2 separate regions of the Homo sapiens genome follow, and region 1 is linked to region 2. The links come from fine-mapping of genetic effects on gene expression. Tissue or cell type: whole blood. Region 2 holds a variant in brackets; the other region holds the start of a gene. All regions are shown on one strand. Distances are between the middles of the regions.

Region 1 (8,104 bases), 120 kb before region 2:
GTGGTGGCTCACGCCTGTAATCCTAACACTTTGGGAGGCCAAGATGGGAGGATCACTTGAGGCCAGGAGTTCGAGACCAGCCTGGTCAACACAGCGAGACCCCAACTTTTTTTTTTTTTGAGACAGTTTCGCTCATCGCCCAGGCTGGAGTGCAATGGTGTGATCTCGGCTCACTGCAACCTCTGCCTCCCGAGTTCAAATGATTCTCCTGTCGCAGCCTCATGAAGTAGCTGGAATTAGATGCCCGCCACCCCGCCTAGCTAATTTTTTTGTATTTTTAGTAGAGATGGGGTTTTACCATGTTAGTCAGGCTGGTCTTGAACTCCTGACCTCAGGTGATCCACCCACCTCACCTTCCCAAAATGCTGGGATTACAGGCATGAGCCACCATGCCCGGCCAATGCCATCTATTAAAAAAACAAAGAAAAAGAGTACACAACCACAAAGCACTGGGCCAAATGCATTGTTTCCATGTTTGCAAGGATTTACCATAGAAATATTAGGTTGATGCAAAAATTAAATTTCCAGACTGCGAATTTTAAATCATTGTAACTACGCTAAAACATATTCTATTAATCAAAACAGGAACCATTACAATCAACACATTTTTGCCAATGAGAAATGTTTGTTTATTCCTGTAGCATAAAAATCCGTGCTTCAGGATTTGACGAACTCTTGGAAAGCATTTTCTGCACCATGCTGAAGTGTTTTCCCTGCAAAAAGTTGTCAAGATGCTAGCAGAAGTGGTAGTCAGTTGGCGAAAGGTCAGGTGAATATGGTGGATGAGGCAAAACTTTGTAGCCCAATTCCTTCAACTTTTGAAGCACTGGTTGTGCGACACGCAGTCAGGTGTTGTCGTGGAGAAGAATTGGGCCCTTTCTGTTGACCAATGCAGGCAGCAGGTATTGCAGTTTTCGGTGCATCTTACCAATTTGCTGAGCATACTTCTCAGATGTAATGGTTTCACCAGGATTCAGAAAACTGTAGTGGATCAGATGGGCAGCAGACCACCGAACAGTGACCATGACCTTTTTTTTGGTGCAAGTTTGGCTTTGGGAACTGCTTTGGAGCTGCCTCTTGGTCCAACCACTGAGCTGGTTGTTGTATAAAATTCACTTTTCATTACATGTCACAATCCGATTGAGAAATGGTTTGTTGTTGCGTAGCATAAAAGAAGACTACACTTCAAAACGATAGTTTTGATTTCCGCTCAGCTCATGAGGCACCCACTTATCAAGCTTTTTCACCTTTCCAATTTGCTTCGAATGCTGAACGACCCTAATGACCGTAGAATAGTCAACGCTGAGTTCTTCTGTAATTTTTCATGTAGTTCAATGATTGCTCTCAATTGGTCGTTGTCAACTTCCCATGGCCCATATCACGTTCCTCATCTTCAAGGCTCTCTTCCTTGCAAAACTTCTTAAGCCACCACTGCACTGTATGTTTGTTAGCAGTTCCTGGGCCAAATGTGTTACTGATGTTTTGAGTTGTCTTCGCTGCTTTATGAACCATTTTGAACTCGAATAAGAAAACTGCTCCAAATTTGCTTTTTATCTAACATCATTAGACAAAAAGCATATTCTAAAATAAACAGCAATAAGTCATTAGCAAAAAAATAAAGTGAGAAATGTGCATTAAAATGATCCACATTTATTTAAGAATGTATTCCAATATCAAACAGCAAATTTCAAAAATGCAAAAACGCAATTGCTTTTGCCTCTCAGGTACATCACTTGACCTTTCTAGTTCTCACCCACTTCACCCCTAAAATCGGAAAATCTTTCTGCAAGAAAAAAATTTGACCACATTCCCTTAAGGCCTCTTCCAATTTCAAGAGCTGTGCTTTACCATGACAAAACGAACCTAGCTCTTTTCCCAATTTTGCAACGTCAGAAAAAGGAGGAAGGGGAAATAGCTGTGTTTAAAACATTTTTTACCAAATAGAAATATTATAAGATTATGGAAAAAAAAATACTAAATGTTGGAGTCATCCTGATAAAAACCCAAATGGATACTGTGTGGGAAAAAAAGTTAACCCATCCATTCTGGAGTCAATATTTATTCTTAATAAGCAAGAAAACTGAAGAAAAAAAATCAGTATAAGATCTACAGCCTGTAGCCTAAACACTTCAGGGCATTTAGGATAAATAAGCGCCTGCACCTTCCCAGGCAAGTCAAAACCACGACATAAAACAGAGAAATATGTAAGGAAAACCTACAGCCCAAGAGTTTAAGAGCAAGACAGGCCAATTTCTTCAAATAAATTTAAGCAATGCTGCTAAAAGCTGCTTTACACATCCCTATTACCATGTACTACTTCCAAATTTCGAGGAGGAGGGGCATGGAATTACACAAGATCTGGATCGTATGTTTACTAAGAAACCAAAAATTATAGGTTCTGGGGCGTTTCAACATTTCACCTGAGATGGCCAGAACGGGCGCATCTTTAGACCTTTAAAACCTAAATTAAAAACTATCAGTACCGAGGAAGGGCCGAAGAGCTCAATACCCACCCAATACAACCCCCACTTCCGACCTACAGACGCTCTGCTGAGCGGCTGGGAGAATCCGTCGCGCCAGTCAGGGCCCGGCTTCTTCCAACAACAGACACTTTGCGAGCCTTCCAGAAGCCTTGGCTAAGCGAGAAGGCAGGGTGGAGGCCGCCACTGCGAGGACGGTCCCCACCCAGCTGCGAGGAGCTCGCGGTTCCCCAGAGGGGCGGGCCTGCGTCCGGGTAACCGTGCGCGACGTCCACGAGTTTTTAGGACGACCAGCCCTTCAGCCTCTAGGCCCCGACGCCTGCGCCATTTAAGCCACATATCCGCCCGCCCGGCCGCGGCCAAGGCCGGCGGCAGCTACGTAGCCGCCGCCGCCCGGGGCCCCACAGCCCACGGGCCGGATGGACCGAGCGCCGGCTGCGGCGTTCCGGTGCGCGCGCGCGCCTCAGCCAATCGCGTTCTCGCCCGCCCCCCGCCGCGGCGGCGAGGCTGGCGCTGGGAAGAGGAAGAAGAACATTCGCCCTCCTCCTACCAGCGCGCGGGCGGCGGCGGCGGCGGCACCGGGGTCACGAACTCTGACCTTTCACTGACAAAAACAATAACAAACCCCCCCTTCTCCGCGACCCCGGCGGCGCCCCCGGGCCCGTCCCCGCCACCCCGCTCCCACCTCGGCGTCTCGTCTCTCGCCCGCTGCCCCGCGAGCCCGCGGCCCCCGGGCTCCCGCCATCCGCCGACACCGGGAGCCCGGGCTCCCCGCGCCCTGCCCTCCGCGCCGGGGGCCGCCCGCCGCAGACACGGGACCCGCTTCGAGGCCGCTTTGGCGCCAAATCCTGAGGTAAAATTGAAAGAGGGTCGGGCGGGCTCGGGCCGGCGGCGGAGGGGGCGGGCCTGGCGCGCGGACATGGAGGCGCCGCGGCGGCGGCTGAACCCGACCCTTTTACCTTTGCCACGGGGTGGCGGCGGCGGCGCCCGGCGCTTTGCATAGTGGGCCGGGCCGCTCCCCTCCCCTCCCCGCCCGCGGCCGGGCGAAGCGAGCGGGTTCCCCCTGACCGGCCCGGCCGGCGCAAGGGTGGGGGTGGAGGGGGAATGGCCGCGGCCCCGCCTTATAGTTGGCCCTCCGCCAGCGCCGCCATTTTGTTCTCGACGGAGATGGCTCCGGCTGGGCGGGCTCCCTTCCTCCTTATCCTCCTCCTCCTCCCGCCTGCAGTCCCTTCTTCCTTCTCTGCCGGGATTTTCACCCCTCCGCTTCTAGTCCGCCTTTGGCGGCCGTCGCAGCCCAACCGCCGTTTTTTCTGAAGGGGAGGGTAAAAGAAAAGGAGGAAGGCGGGTGCGAGGCGCGACCTCGTGAGCGACGGATGGGCTGGCTAATTGGCGCCCAGATAGGAGGGCCGGGGCCTGTGGCACCGCCCCCCTAAGCTTTGCTGATTGGCTGAGGCGGAAGAGGGTGGTCCTTATGGGGCGCGGGAGCCCTGGCGGGGCGGGAGTAGAGGCCGGGGCGAAGAGTGGGGCCGGGTCGGCGGGGGCGGGGCCGGGGGCGGGGCGCGAGGGGCGCGGCCGGGTGGAGAGGCCGGCGCCTGGTCTTGGGTCAGCAGGTGGGCTGCTTCCCTCCGCCTGGAACGCGTCTCGAATGAGTACTGAGGAACAATAGTAATAAAGGTGATGAAGCATTTCGAGTCCACGATGCGCTCTCGTGGGAAGAGGTTTTCGGAACCAGGACACTTTTCAGGGCTCCTGCTCGTTATTTCGCAGCGGCCTTGGCGAATCCCCTAATGAGGCTCAATTTTATCGACTGTAAATGGGGGGCATGCGCATTCTTGCCAGGCCGGACCTCCCTTCTGAGCATTGTTTGTGGGGCTCTACTCAGAAAATGGAGGCAACGCTACTTTGCGAGCTTCAGAGTCACTTGAAAATGGTGTTATTGTTAAAAATGGGATTACAGCCACCAGGAGAGGCAAGCGTTAAGGGTATTTGGGGTTTGAGAGAGCACAATTCGGGAGTGATTCTCTTCTCATTCGTTCGCTGAATACATGTTGACTTAGTTTTTTAGGCACTGGGGACACATCTGGAGAACCAGCTGTACAAGACCCCTGCCCTCACTAGAGTTGGGGGCTGGGGGGTGAATAGACAAATAATTCCAGAGAGTCATAAGTTCTGTGAAAGAAAAGAAGCCAAATGACCTGCTGAAGAAGACCTGAGGCGTTAATTTAGATGGAATGGTCAGGGTGGCCTCTCTGAGTAAGTGATGTTTGAACAGAGGAACCCAAGGGAGGAATGGCATTCCAGACAGGACATCCCGTGTAACGGCCCTGGAGGAAGAGCATTTGATGTGATCGAGAACTGGCTGCTTGTGGCTGGAGAGTTGGTTGGAACTAGTAATTGTCCATTATCCCACTTTGTTTCCAAGCCAAAGGCTGTGAAATATAGCAACGGTAGTGAGGAACAAATCTTCAATGTAATAAGAAAGTCGAGGAAAATACAGCCTTCATATGAATTACTGATGAATACATGACTTGGGAGGAGGGCCTCAGAAACTCACTTTACTTCCAGATTCAAATCCTTCGTCAGCCTCTTATATACATTTTCAGTTCATCAAGTATTTCCTGAGTGCTACGAATACTCCAGGCACTATGTGCTAGGCTGGGAATACAAAAAAGTAAGACACTGGTCCTCAAACATGTGAATATGATTTATTTATTTATTTATTTATTTTTTGAGACCAAGGTCTCACTCTGTCGCCCAGGCTGGAGTTGAATATAATTCTCTGTGTGTGAGTTCTCTCTTTCTCTCTCTCGAGATAGAGATATTTATACACATACATACACAGACATAAAATGTTTTAGTGTTGTGGTTAGCAACTCCCCAACTTTTACTAGCAGTGTGATTTTGTGTAAGCTACCTTTCCTAGCCTCACTGTCCTCATCTGGACAATAATAGAGCCTTCCTTCCTGAACTGAAGATTAGATGAGTTAATGTAAATAATAGAGCTTAGAAAAGTGCCTGACATGTAGCAAATACTGTGTAAATAGAGTTATTGTTGTCATTATGAACTACTGGTATAGACATTGGACTAATTAAGTGATATAAATAATGAAATTTTTATGCAGTGTGGTGTAGGGGCAAAAACAATAGATTCGAACACCGAGATTCTAGTTTTGGCTCTGTGCTTGCAGCTAGTTACATGGCATCCAGGACAAAAGTTTGGAAAACAAAATAATGGAACTAAATAGTACTAACCAAAGTATAGGGTGCTTTATGATTTACAGAACTCTCTTACAGGCAGTATGTTGTTCAGGCGCCACTAGAACCCACGTAATGGCAGAGGCTTCCTGTTCCATGTTTAAAAACCTTTCCAAGGCTTTTCATTATTTTCTTATCTGTGGTACCCCTAGCTTCCTGTGCTCTAGACACACTGGCCTACCTTCAACTTCCTTGACCAGTGTAGCTTACAGTGTAAGCTTACCCCCCACCCCCACCCTACCTCAGATATTGGCTCAAGCATCACTTCTTCAGGGAAGTCCTAATTCCCATTGCCAGTCTAAATCAGATTCTTTTTATTCTTTTCTTTATAATCTTTATCTCACTTTATAATTACACACTCTATTATGTGATTATTTGATTAATGTCTGTCCTTACCACACTGTAAGCTGTGAGAGCAGGAATACATTTTGTTTACCATTACTTATCCAGCACTTAGAAGAGTGCCTGGCACTATTTGTTGAATGAATTGTTGATAATTTATGATGTCACTGATAACTAAGTTGCTGTACATTGATGGATACCTTTTGTGTGAGCCTCTTTGGCAATTCAGATAGCACTGCCAGCAATAATAAGCCTGTTACGGTATTTGGTTGAATTTAGCAAGTGATTTCTGACAGATATGCCACTTTCTGGAGACATAAATATGGATAAAATGACCCATTTCAATAGTTTTTCCCACTCATTTTTTTATGATTGAATTACAAGTTTAAGTGCATGAAAGTTAATAAGTTCATATGTGAAGAAATAAATAGCCCAAACATAACTTATGTTATTTACTTTAGCTGAAGAAACGAAGCACTAAGCTACCATGATTTTCTTGAAATCAAATATTCTGATTTTTGTCTCACCATCACAGGGGATTGGAGAGAAGGAACAAGCCTCCAGTGGGTTCACAGGGAATTGGGAGTTGAAAGTCTCTGTAGCCATTAATTCGGGATATTTATCTTTCTAAAGATAAATTGATTCATTTAATGAAATTATTGAAAATCACCTTTTAATTGCTTTACCAAGGTTAAAAGCAAATTTTGTTAAGTATACATCAAGTTTCTACTCGAAAGTGTGGTAAATAAAACATTTGTATTAACTTATTTTATATTGTAAAACTTTTAAAATAAGATATTGTTATGGTATTTTAAAAATAATAATAGTTTAACTGTTTATTTTTGGGTTTTTTTTTCTGTCTTGCTCAAAGATTTTTGGTATCACTTGTTCAATTCCTTAAGCTAATTACTCAGGGTAACCAAAGAACTGCTAGTTTAGTAAAACAGCTATATGTTGTCTTACATCGTTAAGTTATTTATTGCTTTCAGTAGTTGTATTCACAGTGACTTTTAAGTTTTGTTTCGTGATCATTCTTTTATAGAAAATCCCTGTGCGTAACAACCTCCTCACTTTATGAGGATGGCTGGAAGTTTTTTTTGTGTGTTTTTTTTTGTTTTTGGGAGTCTCGCTCTGTCACCCAGGCTGGAGTGCAGTGGTGCGATCTCGGCTCACTGCAAGCTCTGCCTCCTGGGTTCACGCCATTCTTCTGCCTCCGCCTCCCCAGTGGCTGGGACTACAGGTGCCCGCCACCACGCCTGGCTAATTTTTGGATTTTTAGTAGAGACGGTGTTTCACCATGTTAGCCAGGATGGTCTCAAACTCCTGACCTCGTGATCCGCCTGCCTCGGCCTCCCAAAGTGCTGGGATTACAGGTGTGAGCCACTGCGCCCAGCAACTGGGAAGTTTTTAGCATCTGTCTCCAAGGAGTAACATGGCAAGGGCAGTGCAGTGACAGAGCTTGGGCTATGAAGGCAGAAAGGCCTGGCTTCAGAACCTGGAGTTGGTAGCCTCTCTGAGGCTTATAATTCCCCATTTGTCAAACAGGGAGGTGGGAGCCAGCATTGAGATTGGGGCCAGGGATAGCGGATACTTGTTGTCTGAATGACTTTGAGAACAAGGGAGGTGAGTCTTTGTGGAGCAGCCCTGTCTTCAGCCGTGGCACTGAGCCACTGGTCTGTGTCTAGCTGCCTGAGTGTCTCCACATATCGAGGGCCCTCCGTTGGGATTTTTATTGTTGAGTTCTCTTACCTATAAGCCATACGCTCCTTTAGTCCCAAACCATCTCCTGTACAAGTATCATCTTAAAAAATACCACACGGGGGGAGTCCGTGAAGGAATCTTAGAATCTCAGAATTGGAAGTGGTCTAGACCCCAAGTCCAGCCTTGATGTAAGGATCCCCTGCTAGATTTTCGTTTACCTCTTTTTACTTTATTGCTAATTATGAGGGCCTTAAATGATGCCTTTTTTCTTCCCTGTGTGATCATCATCTTTAACTTAATGGATACATTTGTGCTCCTGTTACACA
Region 2 (8,104 bases):
GCCAGAGCAAGGCAGACAGACTCCAACCCACGGGTACAAGATCACAGAGGGCACAGGTGGCACAGGCCAGCCCCTACCACCAGGAACAAAGAAACAGTGAATGGCTGTTTGTATCCCATTTACCTAGAGGACATTAAAATATCTGAGAATGTAAGTAAGAGGCTCACAGGCTTATTTTGATTGGCTGGCCATTTAAAAGCCAGAGATTTACATAAAAACCTAGATTTCAGCTTCTTGACAAATGAGAAATTCTCCACGGAGCCCACAATGCCAAACAGTGAAGGGCCCTCTGGATAGGGCATGTGCTCTCCAGCTCGCTGCGGGCCGCACCGAGACCCCCACCCCTTCCCATTATCTGCCTGGCAGTTGCCCGGGGACAAAGGTGTGCACAGTTGTGCAGTAGGTTATGAAGGAGTATCTGGGTGCCCATACACCCTAAGACCAAGACCAAGTCTTCCAGGAAGCCATCAAGCCAGCTGATTCCAGGCAAGCAGGTCCAAGTTATCAGATTCACCTGCGCAGAGCAAATGGCTAGGAAGCGGCTTCCGGATCTCTTGAAGGGCCATGCAGTGAAGGTCCGTCACCAAGGGGACCATGCCCCACAAGAAGTTGCTCCCCGCCCCCACGCCTCATTTTGATCCAACATACACCCAAGTCCCAAAGTTTCTGCGGGCTAAGGCTGCCTCCTCCATCACTGCTGAACTCCCAGCACACAGCACACAGCCTAGCACTCAGAGTGTACTCAATAAATGTAGACTTCATACCTGCAGAGCCTAAGGCACTGCTTAGGGCTGCCTCAGGGTCAATCCAAACCTTTCACTTGCCAACTGCCATTCAATGAGTCCCTACTCTGCTCCAAGCTGAAAGACATCCTAGGCGTTCCCTACAGTTCCTTCTAGTCGGGGTAGGGTCTGCCGCTGCACAGCTGACATAATTAATCACTTCCTTCCAAACCTTGAGTCCCGAAGGAAGCGGCCACACTGCCCGGCTCACCGCTCACCGGCTGGCATGGTGTCTCGTGGAGCTGCAAGTTACTTAACCTCTCTGTGCGCTTCCCCAGCCTTAGAGTGGGGATAAGCTGGGGTTTCTCTAGGCATCAGAAAAAAGAAAGCGCGAGAAGCATTCAGAACTGTGCGAGATATGATCAGTGTTCGCCGCTGTTATTTCTCTCATTTTATCCTCAGATTCGTCCTGGGGTGTCACCCCCGTCACCCCGAAAGGATCTGCGGCTGCCCCTCCCCAGCGCTTGCCTTGCTGGCCAGAGGGGCCAAGGGAACTGGTGGCCTCCCTCGGGTCAGCCTCGCCCACCGCGCCGGAGGAAGGAGATCCAGGAGTGGGGTTCTTGTCCTCCGCCCCCCAAACCTCGTCACGACTGCAGCCGGCCCGGCGGGGGCCCCGCCGTCCGCCTCAGTCTGGACCTCTGTAAAATGGGGGTAACAGCGCCGACCTGGGGGGCCCGCCCCGGGGATGAACGGCCGCCCAGAGCGACTCGGGACCTCACGTTACCAGCAGGCTGGCACGACTAGCAGGTTACGGCTCGCCAGGCGGCCGGGGCTGCGACTGACCTGGCGCCCTCGCCCAGCTCCCCATGCGTGTTGTAATTCACTGTCATGACCTTCACGGAGTCCTTGAACACCACGTTCCCCTGGCTCAGATATTGCAGGGTGCGGCGGATGGGGAAGCGGCCCTTCATGGGCATGGCGGCAACGGTGGCGGGGCCGACCCCACGGGCCGCGAGCCGAGCAGCGACGAGAAAGGACTAGCTAGCACCCGCGCGGATCTCACGCGGCTTCTCCCCAGAGCCAGGTTCCACTTCCCGCGCAGACGCACAGGAGACGCTTCCCGGCGGGCAGCGCACGCCGCGGAGCACTCTGGGACTTGTAGGCGGCCTTCGACCCGGCGCGGCGAGAACCGGTGTGTGCAGCTTCGCTTTAGGACGCCTTCCCCTTGGAAGGTTTAGGTTGTCGCGTCCTGTAAATTAGTCATTTCCCCATCCACCCACGGGAAAATATTTTTACATAGGCTAAAAGTCAGACATTGCAATAAGAAATAATCAGGAAAGCTCAGTTTGGATACCAAGTCAGCTGATAACGTCCTATTGAACGTATTGTCCATTTTTCTCCCCAAACATCTCCAGTTTTATCATGAAGAGTTCAAACTGCACTTTCTGACGTTGACTTAAACTTCTTAGCAAAAGAAAAAAAGATGGTTTGGGATCAATTCCTTCCTAAATTCAGCCACTTAACTCAGGACCTCAATTTTTTCGTAAACAAACTATGGGTGAGATGTATTTCTAGGGCCAGGCGCGGTGGCTCCCGCCTGTAAACCCAGCCTTTGGGGAAGCCGAGGCGGAAGGATCGCTTGAGGTCAGGAATTCGAGACCAGCCTGCCCAACATGGCGAAACCCCGTCTCTACTGAAAATACAAAAATTAGCCTGGTGTGGTGGCAGCACCTGTGGTCCCAGCTACTCAGAAGACTGAGGTGGGAGGATCGCTCGAACCCGGGAAGTTGCAGTGAGCCGAGATCGCGCCACTGCACTCCAGCCTGGGCGACAGAGCAAGACTCCCTCTCAAAAAAAAAAAAGATACATTTCTGAAGTACTCTTGATCTGAAAGGTATTTCTCCTTCTCTTTTGAAGAGTGATTTTGCCAGATTTAGAATTCTAGGTTAGTGTTTTTCCTTTCCCTCCCTCCCTTCTGGAGTGCAATGGTGCTATCTTGGCTCACCGCAACCTCCGCCTCCCAGGTTCAAGTGATTCTCCTGCCTCAGCCTCCCGAGTAGCCGGACTTACAGGCATGCGCCACTACACCCAGCTAATTTTGTATTGTCAGTAGAGACGGGGATTCTCCATGTTGGTCAGGCTGGTATCAAACTCCTGACCTCAGATGATCCGCCCGTCTCAGCTTCCCAAAGTGCTGGGATTACAGGCGTGAGCCACTGCGCCTGGCCCTGGTGTTTTTCTTTCAACAATTTAAATAGTTCACTCCACTCTTTTTTTGCTTGCATGGTTTCAAACAAGTAATTAAATGCAATTACATTTATAGGTATGATGGCTTTTTCCTTTAGCTTCTTTCAAATTTTCTCTTGGTGTTTGGTTTACGGGGTTAGAATAAGGTAATGCAGATCTGTAGATGTTTTGTATTTGTCCTGCTTGGAGTCCTCTGAGCCTCCTGGATCTGTGATTTCATGTCTGTCATTAATTTTGTAAAGTTCTTAGCCATTTATTAGTTCAGGTATTTATTCTTCACTCTTTTCTCTTTCTAGTATTCAAGTTAAATGCATTTTATGTCTTCTGGAATTGCCTCATAGTTCTCGAATGTTCTGGCGGGGTGATGGAGGTTCTCTTTGCATTTTAGTGGGGAAGTTTCTGTTGACCTATCTTCAAATTCATTTAATCTTTGGTTATGGACAGTCTACTGATAAGCCCATTAAGGCATTTTTCATTTAAGGTTTTAACTTCTAGCACTTCCTTTTGATTCTTAGGGTGTTTGTTTGTTTGTTTTGAGACAAAGTCTCTGTCACCCAGCCTGGAGTGCACTGGTGCAATCTCTGCTCACTGCAACCTCTACCTCCTGGGCTCAAGCAATTCTCCCACCTCTGCCACTTAGCTGGGACTACAGGTGCACACCACCATGCCTGGCTAATTTTTTTTTTTTTTTTTTTTGAGACGAAGTCTCGCTCTGTCACCCAGGCTGGAGTGCAATGGCACTATCTTGGCTCACTGCAACCTCTGCCTCCCAGGTTCAAATGATTCTCCTGCCTCAGCCTCCCAAGTGGCTGAGATTACAGGTGCCCACCACCACACCCAGCTAGTTTTTGTATTTTTAGTAGAGACAGGGTTTCACCATGTTGGCCAGGCTGGTCTTGAACTCCTGACCTCGTGATCCACCC[G/A]CATTGGCCTCCCAAAGTGCTGTGATTACAGTCATGAGCCACTGTGCCCAGTCTAATTTTTGTATTTTTAGTAGAGATGGGGTTTCACCTTGTTGGCCTGGCTGGTCTCAAACTCCTGACCTCAAGTGATCTGCCTGCCTCAGCCTCCCAAACTGCTGGGATTACAAGTGTGAACCACCACACCTCGCATGATTCTTAGTTTTCTTATGTCTGTTTACATTACCCATCTGTTCTTGTATGTTGTTTACTTTTACCATTAGACCCCTTAACAGACCACATTTTAAATTTCTTGTCTGATAATTCCAATATCTGAGTGTGATTCTGATGTTTGCTTTGTTTCATCTGATTGTTGGGTTTATTTTTTTCCTTGCCTTTTAGCATGCTTATAATTTTTTTGTTGAAGGTAGAATATCCACTCTATTGGGCCATAGGAACTGGGGTAAATAAGCCTCTAGAATGAGAACTTATGTTAATCTGGCTCAGAGTTGAGAGCTGTGTTTAATGTTTGCCATAGCTGTAGGTGTCAGAGGCTTCCAGTTCCTCTAGTGTCTTTGTGTTTATCTCCTCTTGCCTTTGGGCTTCCCTCGATATTCCTCCTGAGAGAGTCCGTGTCTTGCAGCTCTTCCAGGTATAATTCACTGTTACTATCCTGGAGTCCTGTTGATGTGGTGGAAAAACATGGGGGAGGTGAAGCATTCTATAATCTTACGATTAAATCTCAGCATTTTAGTGGGCTTGTGTCCTTGGGCTGTGACCTACACAAGTGTTCTTTCCTTTTTTTTTCTTTTTCTTTTTTTTTTTTTTTTTTGAGGCAGTGTCTTGCTCTATCACCCAGGCTAGAGCGCAGTACAGTGGCGCAATCACAGCTCACTGCAGCCTCTACTTCCCAGGCTCAAGCAATTCTCCCACCTCAGCCCCGAGTAGCTTGGACTATGGCATGTGCCACAATGCCTGGTTAATTTTTGTATTTTTTGTAAAGATGAGGTTTTGCTATATTGCCCAGACTGGTCTTGAACTCCCGGGCTCAAGCAATCTGCCCACCTTGGCCTCCCAAAGTGCTGGAATTACAGGCGTGAGCCACCGCACTGGCCCACAAGTGTTTCTTAGTTCCCCTTTGTACCCCCTTACATGACCCAGCCCTCCTCCAGATGGATAAGGCTCTGTGAAAAAGTGCTTTCCTCTGGGGAATAAGCTTTATTATGGAGAAGGCTCTGATTACAAAGATGATTCTCCCTTTCCCCTGCCAGAGTCACCAGAGGGTCTTCCTCAGCTCTTCACCAATAGAACCAAGTAGGGTAAAACCCAGGAAAGCGTTGGGGGTGAGGGGGAGTTGCTCCCTCCCATGCTAGTCCACACTCAACCTCCAGCAGTTCATCAAAATTACCATTTAAGTTTTCCTACTAGCTATGGCTCCCGTGGCTTCTGCTCCAGGCAATTAGATCTTGCTCACTCTCTGGACTCACCTCTCTCTAGATTTTGGGATGGCAGTTTGACCTGCACACTCAGCTCTCTAATGGGACCAAGAAAGGCCAATGCTTTTGAGTTTGCCCAGCTTTTTCTTGTGGTAAGGATAGGATAACTTTCAAACTCTACGTGTCTGAGCTAAAACCAGAAGTGCTTTCTGAAGTATTTTTACAACTACGCTAGGCTTCCTGAAGAGTTAGGCAGAAGTTTTTCATCTTAAAAGTCCACAGGAGGCACTTGCTAGGGATGAAACACCCCATTCCACATTAGAAACATGGGTGTCCACATACAACACAATCTAGGGCAGCTTGGGTTTTGCAGTCAGACAGACCTAGGCTGGAAACCCAGCAGTGCAACCCTAAGCAAGCTTAACTTCACCACTCACTCATTTCTGCATGTGTAAATGGGTTGTTGGGAAGACTGAGGTAAGCCATGCGTAATACTTAGCACTCAGTCTAGCCTACAGTGAGCACTAGATATTATACTCTCCTGGTTTAAGAATCTATATATTCTTAAGGCCCTAAGGAGGTCTCAGTTTCACAGACTCAGGCAGTCACTATCGGAAACCAGCTCAGCAGCACCCAACCTCATTCCCCATTGCCCTTTTCTGCCCTCTTTGAGCTTGACACAATGGTTGAGCACCCACCACCACCACACCACTACCTGACCCAGCTACTTATTACTGAGGGCAAATTAAGTCAGGCAGATCTGGATTTAAACCCTCATTCCACCACTGACTGGCTGTGTGGCCTAAGCCAGGCTAATCTCTCTTAACTTTTCTACGTCTGGGGTCAGATGAACAGCTGAGTAACTACCTCACAGGCATGCTGGTAGTGCTAATGGAGGGAAATGTGGTCATGCAGAGGTGGTGACTGGCACAGATGGCAGTCACAAGGTTCCTCAATCTCTGAGCCTCAGTTTCTTCCAGTGTGAAACTGGGATGATAGGATCATTAAGGGATCTGCACTATACTTCTGTAAAACTGTTCATTTAACCAGCACTGCAGGAATAACTGGGAATAAGGGCAGAACTGGAACCCGTATCTATCCCCTGTTCAGAACCCAGTGACCTTCATTTTTTCCAGAGGCCTTAACCAGACAAACAACACAGGTGCTGGAACTATTCTGATACTCAGATGGTTGTCATCAAGAAAGGAGAAGGGATGTCATCTGATGATTCTCACTTGTAACACATGTGCACACAGACACACACACCCCCAACCTCTATCTCAGATTTTATTTTTTTTAAAAAAGGCTCCAATACAAGGCCCCAGAGTAGTGCATGCAAATCAACGACCCTCAAAGTGACAGTCATTGTCAGATAACAAGCACAATCTGCTACAGTCTGTGACCTGGTAAAGAGACCACCTTTTCATTTTGAGTCCCATCACCAACTATGCCAATGTCCAACCTACCACACAGCTCACAATGACTCAGAGGTACATTTTAGTATCTGAACAGCAAAGACATATTGAGCTGCAAGTACAATGAGTAAGTATCCTTAGTGTATTAGACAGGGTAAATACAAACAAGGCATAAAAGGGAAAAGCCAACTTCATCTGATGCCTGAATCCCTAAGTCTCTTCCATCTTTTCTCATGATCTGTGTCTAGGGAGATCTGCTATGCCATATCAAGACCTTGCTCATCTGGTGATGAGACGGGGCTGTTTGCCTTGGAAGACTAAAGAAAGGGTGAATATTCACATGAGGTAAGAACTTGAAGTTGTGGTTATAATACATAGGCCAAGTTTGCCTGCTGTCAACCCATCTCTGTAACTCCAACTTTGTGCCTGCATGAATTCTGCGACATGGTACAGCTGATGGGTAGAGAATTCTAACTCCTGTGATGTATTTACAGGAGAAGATAATCGTGGAAGAATTAAATGGAAGAATTCATAGAAGAATACAGCCATGGATAAACTTAATCAAAAGAATATGATTTTAGTTTGGTTTAGTATATTCAATCAGTCAGTTTTGTTTGTTTTTTGTGAGACGGAGTCTTGCTCTTGTCACCCAGGTTGGAGTGCAGTGGCGCAATCTTGGCTCACTGCAACCTCCGCCTCCCAGGTTCAAGCGATTCTCGTGCCTCAGCCTCCCTGAGTAGCTGGGATTACAGGCGTCTGCCACCACGCCCAGCTAATTTTTGTATTTTTAGTAGACACGGGGTTTCACCATGTTGGCCATGCTAGTCTCAAATTCCTGACCTCAGGTGATCCACCCGTCTCGGCCTCCCAAAGTGCTGGGATTACAGGAGTGAGCCACTGCACCCGGCCAGGCCTTTAAAAATAGTTTTTAAAAATGTTTCTTGTGTGTTTTTCAATGCTTTTAGTTACTTACAGATTGCTACCTGAGGTGATTTGAGGGAAGGGTATGTTTAGTGAATTAGTCTTAATCAAAATCACTAGCTAATTAAAAGAGAAATGTTCTCACAAGAAAAATAATTATGATGGAAAGCAGCAATTAGCTTCTGGAACTACCTGCTTTTCAGTTCATCCTCTTTTCAGAGAAATGAGACCCTAAGCAGGGAGGAGCCTACTGGCCATCTGAGAAACCCTCTAGAGTAACAGAGAAATGTCATGGGCCTCAGGGAAGAAAAGAGGCCTGTACCAGGCAACATCTTAGATGCCTGGTTGCCAACTTCTCAAAACAACCCATAACAACCAGCAGGGTTGGTAACTGGCTGACATTCATTAACACACTCATATGGCTGTTTGTGAACAGATCCCAAATGCAAAGCGTCCTTCACACA

What was found. PIP is the estimated chance that this variant, and not a neighbour inherited with it, causes the effect.
Region 1: it holds the start of FGD5-AS1, and the variant in region 2 is fine-mapped to the expression of FGD5-AS1 in whole blood (INTERVAL, PIP above 0.99).

What each region holds. Positions count from the first base shown.
Region 1 is chr3:14,944,574-14,952,677 of GRCh38, forward strand. FGD5-AS1 (FGD5 antisense RNA 1) reads right to left here and starts at 3,868. Exons shown (of 2, transcript NR_046251.1): 1 at 3,440-3,868; 2 at 1-1,581. It overlaps NR2C2 (nuclear receptor subfamily 2 group C member 2), which reads left to right and starts at 3,010. Exons shown (of 14, transcript NM_001291694.2): 1 at 3,010-3,333. RefSeq lists enhancers at 2,161-2,850, 3,539-4,226, 3,673-3,872, 4,227-4,914 and silencers at 2,633-3,062, 3,113-3,182, 3,203-3,622, 4,013-4,072.
Region 2 is chr3:15,063,496-15,071,599 of GRCh38, forward strand. It overlaps MRPS25 (mitochondrial ribosomal protein S25), which reads right to left and starts at 1,820. Exons shown (of 4, transcript NM_022497.5): 1 at 1,566-1,820. The coding sequence starts at 1,699. RBSN (rabenosyn, RAB effector) reads right to left here. Exons shown (of 14, transcript NM_022340.4): 14 at 6,578-8,104. RefSeq lists an enhancer at 1,800-1,979. The variant G/A (reference allele first, on the strand shown) is at 3,893.